Homo sapiens: one gene and its partner. The protein of the gene in region 1 interacts with the protein of each later gene in a pairwise test. Each region holds a gene or a part of one and is shown on either strand. Other genes may lie near its edges.

The links. Proteins that work in one complex are often made in the same cells at the same time.
Region 2: the proteins of RUFY3 (region 1) and CAPN3 interact in binary tests that used the Homo sapiens proteins (3 or more experiments, as listed by UniProt).

What each region holds. Positions count from the first base shown.
Region 1 is NC_000004.12:70,716,956-70,724,971, reverse strand, and holds the start of RUFY3 (protein RUFY3), read right to left. Parts: upstream 3,009-8,016; 5' UTR 2,399-3,008; coding exon 2,221-2,398; intron 1-2,220. UniProt on the Homo sapiens protein: ARL8 effector that promotes the coupling of endolysosomes to dynein-dynactin for retrograde transport along microtubules. Acts by binding both GTP-bound ARL8 and dynein-dynactin.
Region 2 is NC_000015.10:42,362,497-42,369,520, reverse strand, and holds part of CAPN3 (calpain-3), read right to left. Parts: intron 1-7,024. UniProt on the Homo sapiens protein: Calcium-regulated non-lysosomal thiol-protease. Proteolytically cleaves CTBP1 at 'His-409'. Mediates, with UTP25, the proteasome-independent degradation of p53/TP53.

The sequences.
Region 1 (8,016 bases):
CGTCCAGACATCAGGAGTTCCATTTTGTGAACAAGGTGAGATTCACATAATCATGGGCCTGGTGACCACCACTTAAATGCTTATAGCTAAATTAAATCTAATAACTATCAGTGGTATTAACATAAAAGTGGGTATTTCTTGGGACCAAATGACTGTTTAAATATCCAGAGTTTGGTAATGGAGCAAGGCAGTAATACTCACAGGCTTTCATGGGACTATGCTTTCTTTATTTTCATTTCTAGTAATTTAAAATAATAGCTTTCTTGCCCAATTTAAGGCAAAATTCTAAAATGCACTGTCGGCATTTCTCTATTTTCTTCCAAATCCTCTATAGTTGATTACAGGTCTTGGAAACTCTGTATTTATCTGATTTCTTTAATCAGCAGACATACAATTTATTACTTAGATTATAGCTCTCACACATTTTCCATACTGAGAAATGTGTTGCTACAGATTTCTCTATGAAGAATTCAAATGGCGCTGCTAAAAACGCTTACATGAACCAAACAGCTCACTTTTGCTTATCCATAGGAATCCTGCTCCAAAAACATATATTTGAGGTGTTAAAATTGTTAAAAATTATTTTTGAGACACTGGTAAACTAGATTTCATGATAAAGGGAATATTTCATATTGTATAACTCTCAAATTGGACGGGAATACATTTTTTTCAAACAAAATATGTAAACTGAGGCAGTTGCCAGAAGACTTCTTGGTAGCCTTCTAAAACTGTATTTTTCTTCCCTAAAGACTTTTAAAGCTTTGGAGGCTGTTTTAAGTAGTACTGGAATTGTTGGATGTAACGATGTTTTGATGAAAATATAGAATAAAATAATAATAAAAAATAAATAGTACTGGCATTGCATGGAATTTCAGCTGATGTCTTATAACTTGTGCACATAACGAAACATACAGCCAAAGAAAGCTGTCTAATTAACAAACCAATTGTTAAAAGATGCAAAGGGTCTTAAAAACCACTTAAACATTGTTCTTAAAGACACACCCAAAATGACTGCTTTGTGTTCTGTGTTATTAACCATCCCTAAAACTTTCTCAAGGCTAAGGCTGACTGGGAAGATAAAATGCTTATCAAACACAATGGGAAAATTCTGAGTCATGATAAGATTTCAACTCAAGGTCAAAGGCAGAGAATCACCTTTCCTAACCCCATCTGCTAGGTACAATTCACCTATGGTCTTCTTTGTCCTGTCGATGTGCCTAACTATCAGGCAGATGTTTATAAAGAATTTCTCCTCATATGCAAGCGTTTTTTGTTTTTTTTCATCAGTATAAGGACAGAGAATAAACCTTAGCTAAGAAGCAACTGTATTAAAAACAAAACGATTTGTAGCTATGATTCAAATCAGCTCTCTTTCTGTGGTATTAAGAGAATTAAAGGGTAGAAGCAGAAAACCTCTCATAAATTAGCAAGAGTCCTGGAAAAAAGTCGCAAGTCAAGAGACCACAAAGATCTCAGAGGTACTGACAGTGGAAATCTCAAATGGATCATAATAGTTACCACAAATAATTTATAAAAAGCAATGGCCAATAGATTCCAATATTACCATTCTATTGTAATCTATAGGGATGCCATATTAATCATATTTAACCTTTCCAGGCATTATGCTTTCTTAGGAGTCCATATTCAATAAATAAATGCTGAAAAGTTATTTTCTCATCTAACCTAATAATCCATATTGTTAAAAAAATGTTTTATCAAACATTTCCTAGATGTCATAACTTGCTTAAAATTGTATCCTCATATAATGGTGAGGATACCATTACCAAATACCCTGGTGTTTCTACTGTATTCATCATGTACAATCCTATAATTATAGTCATGTTGTCTTAACTTAGTGTTATAAATCACTACAATTTCTATAACATTTTCATATATGAACAAAATTAATAGCTTTCTCATTATTGAATAGAATCAGATGTGATAAGTGACCTCAAATGTTTTATTTAGAGGCTTAAAGACAAAGAACTCTAAACGAGTATCCAGCATCTTTTGAAAGGATACCTAAAGGGGCAAGAAAAAAAATTATCTTTCCCCCATGAGCAAGAGAAGGGGAGCTGGGTGGTAAGTAAGGATGCAAGGTTTTCAGGACTGTTAACAGTTGAGAGTGTAGGTTCTTTCTACCTCTCCCTGATCCTCCCAGCCCTCCCCCATAACAATGAGGATGCTGGTGAAATACTAGCGGACAGGATCTGACCATACCTTCATGGGTAGGCTCTGGGTCAGGTGTAAGTGAGATGTCATCCAGCTCTCGCAGGCAGAGCCATTCTCCATCCATGGACACTCGGAATTTGCAAAGGTAGATGGTCTCCATGGCAGCCTGTGTGATCTTGTCAGTGGTGGGGGTTGGCATATCGGTCGGAGGCGTCAGAGCAGACATGATGACTCAGCTGGGACCACAACACACACACAGACACACACACACTCACACACACACACCAAAAAAATAAATACAACCTCCTCACCAAAAAAACCCAATACAAAGCTCTGAAACAAAGCTTTCAGGAAAAGGGTGGGGGAGGTTTAAAAAAAAAAAAAAGGAAAAATACCTTATAGGTTAAGAACAAACTGCTCAAGATAAACAATTCTACACTATCTTATAGACAGTTCCTACCACATAGCAAAATAAGATGATGCTTGTCTTCTCCCAGCTTCCTCTCCTTTTATCTTCCCTTCCCTGCCCCCCACCTTTTTTTTCAGCTGAGCTATAGGCTTTAAATCCCGCACAGCTGATGCTGCCTTAGCTGGCTTTAAAAATCTGGCCTCGATATGAGTAAGTGAAAAATCCTCCTCCTTTGTGCAGAAAAAAAATATAAAAGAAAAACCTGAACAAAAAATAAACCTATATTTTCAATGTAGCTTAAAAAAAAAATCCTGAGCTGCAGAAATCACTTCCAGGATCTGCTCAGATGAGCTGGGATGCTGAGTTCTCATAGGATTGGCCGTGCGCAGTAAGCAGGGTGTTGACCAAAATGGCTGACTAATGAACTGAACTGAAAATTCAGGCTCATGTGACCAGCTGCTCTGAACGTAGGGCAAGCAATTCCCAGGATGCTTTATAGATGCTGCTGATGCTGGGAGAGCAATTAGGCTTCTCTCTCTCATCCTGTACAACCCACTTCCAGACTGTGCTAGTCAAACTGTGATCAGACATAACACAATGCACATATCCTCATCAATTCTTCTTACTTTGGGATCAAGGACTGAATAAAAGGATGACAATTAATACCGGATAATAATCTATAGTAAAGATGGTAAAAGAGGCAGTTAGATTAATTTAACAAGCATATAATTCACCTCTTTCATTCTTATCTACATAGCTATTAAAATTCTTTACTATGCTAAATGTTATGTTTTAAGAAAAGCTAAAGCATAAAAAATTGAGGTTCTCAGAGGGAAAAAAAACAAAAAGATAAAAAGAAAAGCTAAAGTAGATTTTCAATTTAAATATCTTATTCTTGGGCATTTATAATTTCCTTCTCCAAGGTACAAAAACCTGACCTTTTAGGTTAGGCAGAAATGCAAAAAAAAAACTTCAAGTTAAAAAAGTAAAATCTTTCCCAATTAATGGCAATTTCCCCCCTTTTTGATTTTGTTGTATTTATCAAGTTTCTGTATTAAGCATAAAATACGTTTCTTTTTTTTTCTTTTTTCTTTTTTGAGACAGAGTCTTGCTCTGTAGCCCAGGCTGGAGTGCAGTGGCGTGATCTCAGCTCCCAGGTCCAAGCAATTCTCTGCCTCAGCCTCCCGAGTAGCTGGGATTACAGGCACCCACCACCACGCCCAGCTAATTTTTGTATTTTTAGTAGAGACGGGGTTTCACCATCTTGGCCAGGCTGGTCTTGAACTTCTGACCTCATGATCCTCCCACCTCAGCCTCCCAAAGTGCTGGGATTACAGGCGTGAGCCACCATGCCCAGCCTTAAGCATGAAATATGTTTCTAAGCAGATTAAACCATGTTATATTTTTAAAATCCTCCCATTCGATAAGATACTGAAGACAATTATATTTTCTTAATACACACACACACACACACACACACACACACACACACACACACACACGGCCCTATATTATCCAATGAGGCATTTATACCTTGGTAGCAAAAGGGCAGGTACTTGCTTTATGAACTACATAAATTACAAAGAGAAGAATAAGAATTTTCTTTGAAAATGTTTTGGACAATTGAAAGAAAGTGTTTGTTTGTTTTTGTATTGAAGGGTTCCAATTTTAAGGAGGAACATACAAATTCAAGAAATATGACCTGAGACTATTCCTTTCTAGGGATTGTTATCAGAGGGACATCTTGATTTACCTAATTTCTGAAAACTAAAAAAATTCTCCTTGAATATTGTTAAAATCTCAAATGCTTCATCATAATTTGAGACTGAACTGAAAGAAAAAAATGCTAATAATCAAATTCTGTAGAGAAACTGGCATTTTCATATTGTTACGAAGACAGGGCGGATGGCTGGGCGCGGTGGCTCATGCCTATAATACCAGCACTTTGGGAGGCCAAGGCGGGCAAATCACCTGAGGTCAGGAGTTCGAGACCAGCCTGGCCAACATGGTGAAACCTCATCTCTACTAAAAATACAAAAATTAGTCAGATGTGGTGGCATGTGCCTGTAATCCCAGCACTTTGGGAGGCTGAGGCAGGTGAATGGCTTGAGCTCAGGAGTTTGAAACCAGCCTGGGCAACATGGCAAAACTCCATCTCTACAAAAACAAAAATTAGCAAGGTATGGTTGCGCGCACATGTGGTCCTAGCTACTTGGGAGACTGAGGTGGAAGAATCACGTGAGGCCAGGAGGCAGAGGCTGCAGTGAGCCGAGATCATACCACTGCACTCTACCCTGTCTCAAAATAAAAAAAAGAAGGAGGGTATACTGGTACAATGTAAGAAGGCATATATATAGGCTTATTTATAATTGGGGAAAATCAGTAAGTTACTAAGGAAAGCAAAATACTCCTGGTTTTATTTCTATCTCATTCTCTCTCATCATTACCCTACATCTAGACTCAGAGCCATTCATTCATTCATTCATTCAACAGATATTCACTAAGAGGTGCTCCACATGCCAGGTAGTGATCCAGGCACTAGGCACGCAGCAGTAAGACAGAAACACCTTTTCCAGGAAACAGAATTTTCATATCCAAATACTGAACACAAGCCTTCATTTAACACATTCTCATTTAATTCAGTTCAATTCCTTTCTAGCCAAAAATATTCCCATATTATATATTAATAAGGGGACAGTTTATAGATTCACTTTATATCATGCAATACTTCAAAACATAGTAAGTAGTCATTAAAACCTTCAAATTACATGGGACATTCCTGGAACCACAACTCCAAACAGCCCTAGCTATCTGTATGTGTGATATCAAAACTCTAGATCACTGATATGTTCTTAAAACAGAACAAGGAATACATGAATAAATCCGAATGCCATGTGATTGTCTGGGGTCCAAAACCTGAATTTGGCCTTGTCACAAACCACAACAATCTCTTCACCCCAGTAAGCATTTACTAACTTGAACAGATCTAGATTGATTGCAACATACCAACACAACAGGAACATCAAGGTTAGTGAGCAAGAAACTTGATTAACATTCCTTCGGAAGATCCATCCCACCCTGCCTCTCTCCAGGTAGAGGACACAGAGAGGCAAGCCCAAAACAACTAAAGTTTTTGGCAAGGAAAGAAAAACATGCCTGTATTGGTATCCTTGAATTTCCCAGATCTACCAGTTTGAGGTGTTGGCAGCCATTTCAGAAATAAGACCCGGGGGTGGGCAAGAAAAACTGTACTTCTACGCTGTTCTTTAGGTAAACACCATTGAGTCTTCAGCACGAACAGTTATCCATTGTTCACAGGCAAAGAAGTTACTATGAAAACAGTGCTATTTGTAGAAACTTATAAAAACAATTCTACGGCCGGGCACGGTGGCTCATGCCTGTCATCCCAGTACTGTGGGAGGCTGAGGCAGGCGGGTCACCTGAAGTCGGGAGTTCAAGACCAGCCTGACCAACATGGAGAAACGCCATCTTTACTAAAAATACAAAATTAGCTGGGCGTGGTGGCACATGCCTGTAATCTGCTACTCTGGAGGCTGAGGCAGGAGAATCGCTTGAACCTGGGAGGCGGGGGTTGCAGTGAGGTGAGATTGCACCACTGCACTCCAGCCTGTGAAACTCCGTCTCAAAGAAAAAAAAAAAAGATTTTAGATATTGCTTAGTACCGTTTTTACATTTTGGTCTTTACTAAGTAAACATCTTAGCTTTGAATATGAAGTTAAAGTTAAGCCATCAGTAAGATATTCAAACCTTGATTTTTTTTCTCACATACAGAGTAATTACTGTATGAGCTGTATTGAACTATTTTCTCATTTGATCCCATTTGTGAGTAATGGCACCTATTTGTAAGATGGTTGTGAGGCGGGTGGGAGTTCAGTCTGTGGCCCTAAAAGAATAGGCCTGTGTGAAGTTCAAATCCAAAATGAAGATCCAAAAAATACTACGTTCTAGCTGCTTAAACAGTCTGTATTTTCCACATTATGATGGATTCAAAGCAAATAAGAGTCACACTTCAAAGTCAGAAGTTACATTCCTCTTAAAGGATATTTGTACTCGGCTGCTACTATAAGACAAAGGTTAACTTGACAGGCTCAATGTCTCTGTTATATATTGTGGAAAAATTACCTAAAATAGCTATCATTTATTAAATTTCTATTTTCTGTTAGGTGCTTTACAAATGCCATGTAAAGGGCTGGGTGCGGTGGCTCACGCCTGTAATCCCAGCACTTTGGGAGGCCGAGGCAGGTAGATCACGAGGTCAGGAGATTGAGACCATCCTGGCTAACACGGTGAAACCCCGTCTCTACTAAAAATACAAAAAAATTAGCTGGGCATGGTGGTGGGTGCCTGTAATCCCAGCTACTCAGGAGGCTGAGGCAGGAGAATGGCGTGAACCCGGGAGGCGGAGGTTGCAGTAAGCCAAGATCGCGCCACTGCACTCCAGCCTGGGCAACAGTGTAAGACTCTGTCTCAAAAAAAAAAAAAAAAAAAAAAAAAAATACCATGTCAAGTCTTCACAAAAGCACTGCAAAACAGAGATTGATACCTTCTCTTTATACACAATGAAACCAAAGTTCAGCCACGTAACTGGCCCAGAATCACACAATTAGCGAGTAGCAGATCTGTTACTCCAAGCTACTTCTGTCTAGATACCTCCAAAGTCCATGTTCCTTCTACACTCTGCAACTTCAGCACTCTATCCTAACTCTTCCTCATCCCCGGATGTTAAATTTTATTCAGAGAAAATAAAAAGACATTTAAAACACACACACACAAACACACACACACACACGCAAAGTCTCTTCATGAAATTTCCTAAAGATGAGTTTCAACAAATTTAAGATTTGAAGAAATTTTTTTTATCAGCCTCCATACTTTACACCTTAATGCTGCACAACCCATACCTTCCTCTAGGCCCCCCAACTTACATATTAAGTTCAGGCTTTTAGTAAGTGGGCACATTCTGACAAACTGAGAACCCAGTATGGACTTTTCTGTCATGGGCTCACAAAGGGTAGATAAAATGCTTCCACTATGTACTTGGTTCACCCTACTACCACTCTGTCTCTGAGTTCCCTCCACATTTACATACTAGTTGGACACATTAAGAACACCTGATAAATTCCAAAATAGAAAAAGATAAATGAAGGGGGGAATCACTTTCTAAAATGATGCATTGTACGCTTTTTAAAAATAGCAAACTTAATGTATAATTTTAAGTCCTTAAAGAATATAACCAATATCCCTGAAACCCTTGCTCAACTGGAGAAATGGACCAACATATGTACTTATGTGCTCCTTCTTGCTTCTAAACTCCTGCCTCTCATTTCAAGGTAACCTTCTGAATTTCGTGTAAATCATTATCTTATTTCAAAAATATTGTCACAAATATATGAAGGTCTAAGCAATATGTTTAG
Region 2 (7,024 bases), on another chromosome or scaffold:
TCTTTTTTTTTTCTTCTTTTTGAGATGGTCTTACTGTGTCACTCAGGCTGGAATGCAGTGGCGCAATTTTGGCTCACTGCAGCCCCAACCTCCGTAGCTCAAGTGATCCTCCCACCTCAGCCTCCCAAGTAGCTAGTGACAGAGCAGGAGCATCACCATCTTGGACAAGCACCACCATTTTAAAGTGCCCCTTGATCAAAAACTGCCTAAATCCAACCCAAAGGGCATCAGCCTAATGGCTAATGTCAGTATGACCATAAACCACAAATGACATCTCCAACCAGAAACATTCCAACCGTAAGATAAACTCTCTCCCTGACCAGAGACAAGCCAGCCCCAAGATAACCTCCCCTCCAACCAGAGACATTCCAAACCCACAATGAACTTCTCCTCCACACAGAAACATTCCAAGCCTGTGATAGGCTCTCTCACCCTGAACCCTTAAATACACTTAGTCTGTAAGAGAGAGTACTCCTGACAGAAATCAGCCAGAAGCCCCTCTCAGGTTTATTCTCCAAAATAAACCTGTCTTTATTGAGCCATTTTTCATGTTTCTTTCCTCTTTCTTTTTAACTCTTACAGCTAGGACTATAGGCACAAACCACCATACCTGGCTAATCTTTGTATTTTTGGTAGAGATAGGGTTTCACCATGGTGCCCAAGCTGGTCTTGAACTCCTGGGCTCAAGTGATCCACCCGCCTTGGCCTCCCAAAATGCTGGGACTGCAGGTGTGAGCCACCACGCCCAGCCCACATTCTTAATAGAGCATTGTTTCAAGCTGTAATATTTAAGAATACAGAGAAAATGAAGTATAGTCAATACTCATTATTCTTGGTAGTTATGTTTTATAATAACGCTGAGAACACTGTATTAGTAAATACTGAACCATTGCTCCTAGGGGAACTACAGAGTTAGAGTCCTATGAGTCTCTGGTCACATTTTCATCAACCAATCAATACAGAGCCTTATTTTATGATGTTTCTGCTTAAAGACACCTTATTTAATATTGATTCATTAAATTATTGTTTATTGATTGATGATTCAATAACATTGAACTCACAGCCAACTGACTATAACTTGTGTGTGAACAAAGCTTATCTGACACACGTATTTCCTCCATGAGGCACACCACAGCCTCCTAGAATGCTAGACAGCATTTCAGCACTATGCTTGGAGGTCACCAATAAAAAGCACAGAAATGAGAAAAACATGGCACTAAAGACGTCATGAAAAGGACATTCTTTACAGTATCAAAGCTGAAACAAGAAGGCTGAGTGTTGCCTTGTTTGACCTGAGCTGGGAACAGGCATGTGGGGTGACTCAGATTTTTCACAGCTCTGTGTATGCCCACAAATGACTGCAAAAACACCTCAAGTACTAATTTTGAGGAGACAAACCTTAGCGAGTAGGTGAATTTGCAAATATGGCATCTGCAAATAACAAGGATTGGCTGTGTAAGGTTTATAGCACTGACGTCCTCCATGTTGGAAAAGCCATGCCTATGGCATAAAGTTGGAACACTTTTGTGACTGATCTGAATTAACTAAAAGAGGGATGACATGATTCAAAAACAGGATATGCCTGTAGTCCCAGCTACTCAGAGTCTGAGGCAGGAGGATCACTTAAACCCAGGAGTTCAAGTCCAGTGTGGACAACATAGTGAGACTCCTATCTCTGTTTAAAAAAAAGAGAGAAAAAAATAGGGAGGGTTACCATACAGGGAAAATCAGCTGACTCTATTTCACTGTCTTTTGGGTCACAGCCAGAGAAAATATATTACATTTGCACCTGGAAACATTCTAGTTAGAAATAAGGATGAGTGTTCAGACTGTGAAAGTTACAAGCTGTAGGTTACTCAAGGAGATGGAGCCATCCTTTTCTCTTTAAAACCTTTATATCAGGAAAGAAAGCCATCCATCTGGAAAGGCTGAAAGTAGTTCCCATTTTTGGTCCTATATCTCTGGGGTATTTTAAAAATAGCAGCTTTTATACTATATTTCTGGTGTTCTGGAGTATATAATACACTTCTGAAAGTTCTGATGGTGATTGTTTAAACTTGAAGATTGAATGAAAATGGAAAAGTACGTGTCAGCTCCTCTTCAGCAGAATGCCACCCAGTGTTAGCTGAGGCACCAGGCTTCCTTGTGAATTGTCTTGAACACCACTCCATAGCCTCTGAGAGGGCAGAGCCTCCTCACTCCCACCACAGTTCAGCCGGTTCCTAGCAGCTCCTTTCTGTGTGCTTCTCTCTCCCCACACTCCTGTGCTTTCCACACTCTGAGTGTTGGCTCACCCCTGCTTGTGTAAACCAAAATAGGAACCTCCACCCTCTACCAAGTCACTTGCCTCAGAAGTTTCACAAGCACTCGGAAAGAATTCTGTGAGGGAGGCCGGGTGCAGAGCCTCATGCCTATAATCCCAGCACTTTGGGAGGCTGAGGCGGTGGATCACTGGGGTCAGGAGTTTGAGACCAGCCTAGTCAATATGGTGAAACCCCATCTCTACTAAAAATACAAAAATTAGCCAGGCATGGTGGCGCATGCCTGTAGTCCCAGCAACTAGAGAGGCCAAGGTGGGAGGATTGGTTGAACCTGGGAGGTGGAGGTTGCAGTGAGCTGAGCTGGAGACACTGCACTCCAGCCTGGGCAACAGAGCGAGACCCTGTCTCAAAAAAAAAAAGAAAAAAAAAAAGAAAAAAAAGAATTCTGTGAGGGTCGGGTCGTGGAGAGGAAGAACACCAGGTTAGGGGTCGTCACAAGCCCTGTTGCTTCCTCCACTCCATTTTCCTTTCAGTTCTAGCTCTCCTCCCTCTTGTAAGTAAACGGGCAGGTGTTTTTCTTTCTTTTCTTCCTCGAAAACAATCATACTTAATTCTCCTTCCCCCACCCCAGAGATTATTGTAATTCTGTAATTATAATAATCTTTCTGATTTTTTCTTACAGGTTTTCCTCGAGAAGAGAGAAGATGTTTCTGCCATGTTAAGGGTTCAGAAAGTGAGCACATTTGGCGAAATAAATTTAAAGACTTGACAATAATTCCACAGTAGTAAGAAGATCTACCCTGAAGAATGTCATACTTTTTTTTCTCCTGGTGTAACAGCCCTGGCACAAGGAAGAAGTTGGTTCTGCCTGGATGATGAGGACCTTGGGAAGGGGCAAGAGACCAGGTCATACAGAAAGCAGCAAAAACCAGCCGGTGTGGCTGGGTCCATGTCGATAGACAGCACGGAAGAAAGAAAGAGCCTGGGAAAAGGAATAGGTTGGGGATGGCAGGGTTGTGAGTTAGATGGGAAGGGACTCTTTGTCTTATTTTTCCATTCTGAATGCTTTTCTCCCTCACGTTTTACATTTCACAATTTCCCTCACATTTCTGAATTTCTCTCACATCTCTGAAACTGTGATGCAACTTACATTAGAAAGCTTCCTTCTACTGCACTCAGCTGGGTGATGGTCATGACCTTCCATGGACACCCTCTGATAAGATCAAGAAAGTACTAGTATTGAGAATCTTCTAGACTTGGGAAAATAAGGTTCATGATGAATTATAGCTTGGGAAACTTATCTAAACTCTATTCTTAAAATAAGCCTAATTCAAGAGATTTCTGTGTACCAGAATACAAGGAATAAAGTCATCTATTCAGAGGACTAAGAGGCTGCTGCCGTCTGTCTGGGAAAGAGGTGTCCACAGGTCCAGGTGTTGGTGGAGGGCACTAGCTGGCCCCAGGAGTGAAGAAGAGCAGGGCTAAGGGTGAGGTTGGACTACTGGGCAAAGCACAGATGGATATGGGTATGATAGTAATACCTGGCAGGAAGAAAGGCAAACACCAGAGAAATGTGGCTGAAGTAGAGACCCAGCTCTGAGCTGGGAACGGGTGGGGCCCTGTAATGACAGAGAGGTGGGGACAGGAGTTGAGGGAAAGAGGTGAGGGGAAAAGGTGAGGGGAAAAGACCCATAGCTGGAGCTCCAGCCACCATCAGCAAGTGAGAAGGCACTGGATCTGGAGTTAAGTGGGAAGGTGGCAAGCTCCCCCAACTCCCAACAGCAAATAGAGGAGAGAGCTAAGCAGAAGGTTGCGATGAGAAACTGCAAGGCCCAGCTATCAGCCCAAGGAGCTTGGAGGACAGTGGAGGAAGGGAGAACGGATTTCCTAGGGAAGGAGCTGGAGGTTAAGCTGGAGGTGGCTGTATATCAATGATGCAGTTTTGACTCCGATTCAGGGCTGTGAACTGGAGGCCCAACCAGAAATAACCTCTCCTAGCAGAGCCAAGAAACACTGAGACCATGCTGATGGAGGGAAGTTTAACCTGAAGTCTGGGTTAATCCAGCTGCTAAATACGGTGGGCCCTTCCTTCTCCAAGCTCTAGGTTAGGGTGGGTCTGGAATAACATGGAATTTACAGAAAGGTGACTCCACCTAGCACCAGAGACAGGAGGAGCCCAGGAACCTCATTGTTGTCAGGGTCCACTGCTGGAAGCCCTGGCCAGCTGAGCTGATGGTGCAGGGCAGGGCCCTGTGGAGCAATTCTGGGATCCCATGTTACCAAGGGTGAGGAGAGGACCAGATACCTTTTCATCACAAGGTCCTGCAACTGGCCCTTCACTTCTCATCCCTCCAAAAGAAGCAGGGATCTAGGTTGCCCCTGCTTTGGGAATTGCAGGAGATGAGAGAGAAGAAGCTTAAGAACTCTCCACCTGGCATGACTGAGGCACATGCAGATGGGAAAAACGAAGCCCTTGCTCAGCAAGTTGGTCTCAGTGAGCCTTTAAAGCCAATCACTGGGCAAGGTGCCAAGTTTCCCAGCCAAGTGTGATCCCTCTTTTGTAGTCTCCTTCCTGGCTCTATGATACACTCAGATTTTCACAACCAAATGTACATTTTATATTTGATGTAGATAACTAGAATTGCCCTAAAGGACAAGCAGTCCCCTGCCCATGAGGGGAGCATTCACACACACATCCTCATGCTGAGATGGATGGATGCATTTAGACCAGGCATGAAGTACTCAAACACATTGCTGTAGCTAATATCTTGACTGGTCATAGGCACAAATTAAGCTGGAAAAATGTTTATGATGTTGCCACTTTTAAGAGACTGCATAGCTGCTTGTAGGCAGTAATAAGAGTAGTCTATGTTTACTGAGCACTCAACCATGTGCTGGTCTTAAGCCTTTAGCCTGCATTAACTCATTTAATCCTCAATTAATTAAGAGATGGGTTCTTCAATTATGGTTTTTCTCCATTTTTCACATGGAGAACCTGTGGCAAAATGAGGGTAAGTATGTGACCAAGATTACCTAAGTGTTAGGTAGCAGGCCCAGACTTGAACTTAGGTTATCTGACCTCAGAGCCTGGGCTCTTAGCCACTGTGCCATTCCATCTCCAACTTATAGAGGCTGATGCTTTCAGGGGCAACCCCTGGGGTGTCACTCAATGCCTGTTGTGTCTTGAGGAGGCCCAATAAATGACACCTTACTTCCATGCATGAGTTTTGAGCCAATAAAGGAATACTACAAAAGTGCAGGGCAGGTGGGAGTCCAAAATCCCACATTTATTGTTTAATAAAAATGGATATTGACATCTAAATCTCAGAATTAGATAGATTTGGGGCTCTAGAGCCAGATTGTGTGGGTTTAAATCCCAGCTCCAACCCTCACTAACTGGGAGATCTGGCGCGAGTTATTTAATCCCTCTGAGACTCAGTTCCCTCCTTTGTAAAGTGGGACAATAATGGTACTTCCTCACAGGATTGTTGTGAAGATTAAATGAATTAACATATGGAAAGCATTTAGTTACTGGCATGTGGTGAGTTCTCACTCAAGATTAGCGATTATCTTTACTGTTAACCACACATTACCAGGTGGCCCAGGGACTCCTGCATGACTCCCCATGGGGACTTGCCTCCAGAAAACTTACTGCAAGGAGGGCAGAGAGCAGAAGCCATGCTTCTTGCAGGCAGCTTGCTTCCCAGAGAAAGACAGAAGCCAAGAACTGGGCTTTACAGGTCAAGTTCTCTTTACAAACCCACCATGGGAAGGAGACAGGCCAGGAGTGTGGTGCAATTGAACCTTCCACCCCATGGAATGAAACACGACCTGCCCTCCCATCCCCAACCTATCCCTAGTATATTGGGCACCAGCATCCCAGAAGCCCTGTTCTAGAACCCATTCTATTCTGCCCTGGGATCTGTCATCAAGAAAACTTGCCTTAACAGTTGAGAAGTGTTGAATAATTTGTTTGCTTTCTGATCCTAGAAATAGATCATATAAGGAAAGTCTAGAGGAACCAGATTGTTTGCCCTGGAAACTCAATGCATGATGTTCCCGAGTAGAGGAAGAAAGTCTGTGAGGTAGCACTGGTGAGTAAGAGAAGAGATTACAGGTGAGCTGGGAACAGTCGGCCAGAGCCTGTTTTCTTTTAAGAGGGAAAGGCTGAAAGTGCAGCATGCTATTTTAACTAGAATTATAGTTGGCCAGGAATAATTCTCCCTTTATCATTATTATCATTATCACTGTAATTATAATAAATAATACTTGATGGTCGAAAAAAAATTCAGATTGGTTTCCAAAGGTTCTGTGCCTTAGACAGTAAAAGCAGGAAGGCCTTTACTCACCTGTGTGGTGCTTCTCCTGATAGGACACAGTCTTTTCAGACTGCATAGGGCTGGCAAAGGTCACTACATCTGAAGAAGTTTATGGAGAACTGATGTCTCCAAGAAGTGCTTTACAGTCAGAAAGTTCTGGAGTCATTTCAGTTTTTCAGTTCCAAGTCAACTTGTGTGGCTGTAGATAAGTCATTTGCCCTTTCTGGGCCTTAATCACCTATAAAGCAAGGACACTGGAGCACCTCTCCAAGAATCATTCCAACTCTGACCATCTCTAATTTTATATTTCTCATTTATGCTAGTGAACCCAATGGGCAGTGTTCCTGTGATCTTAACCCCAGGGGAACATGTGGGCATTTTATCCAAGAGTGGCCTTTGTTATCTGGTCCTTTAGTGACTCAAACAGTGGAAAATCCAGGATCT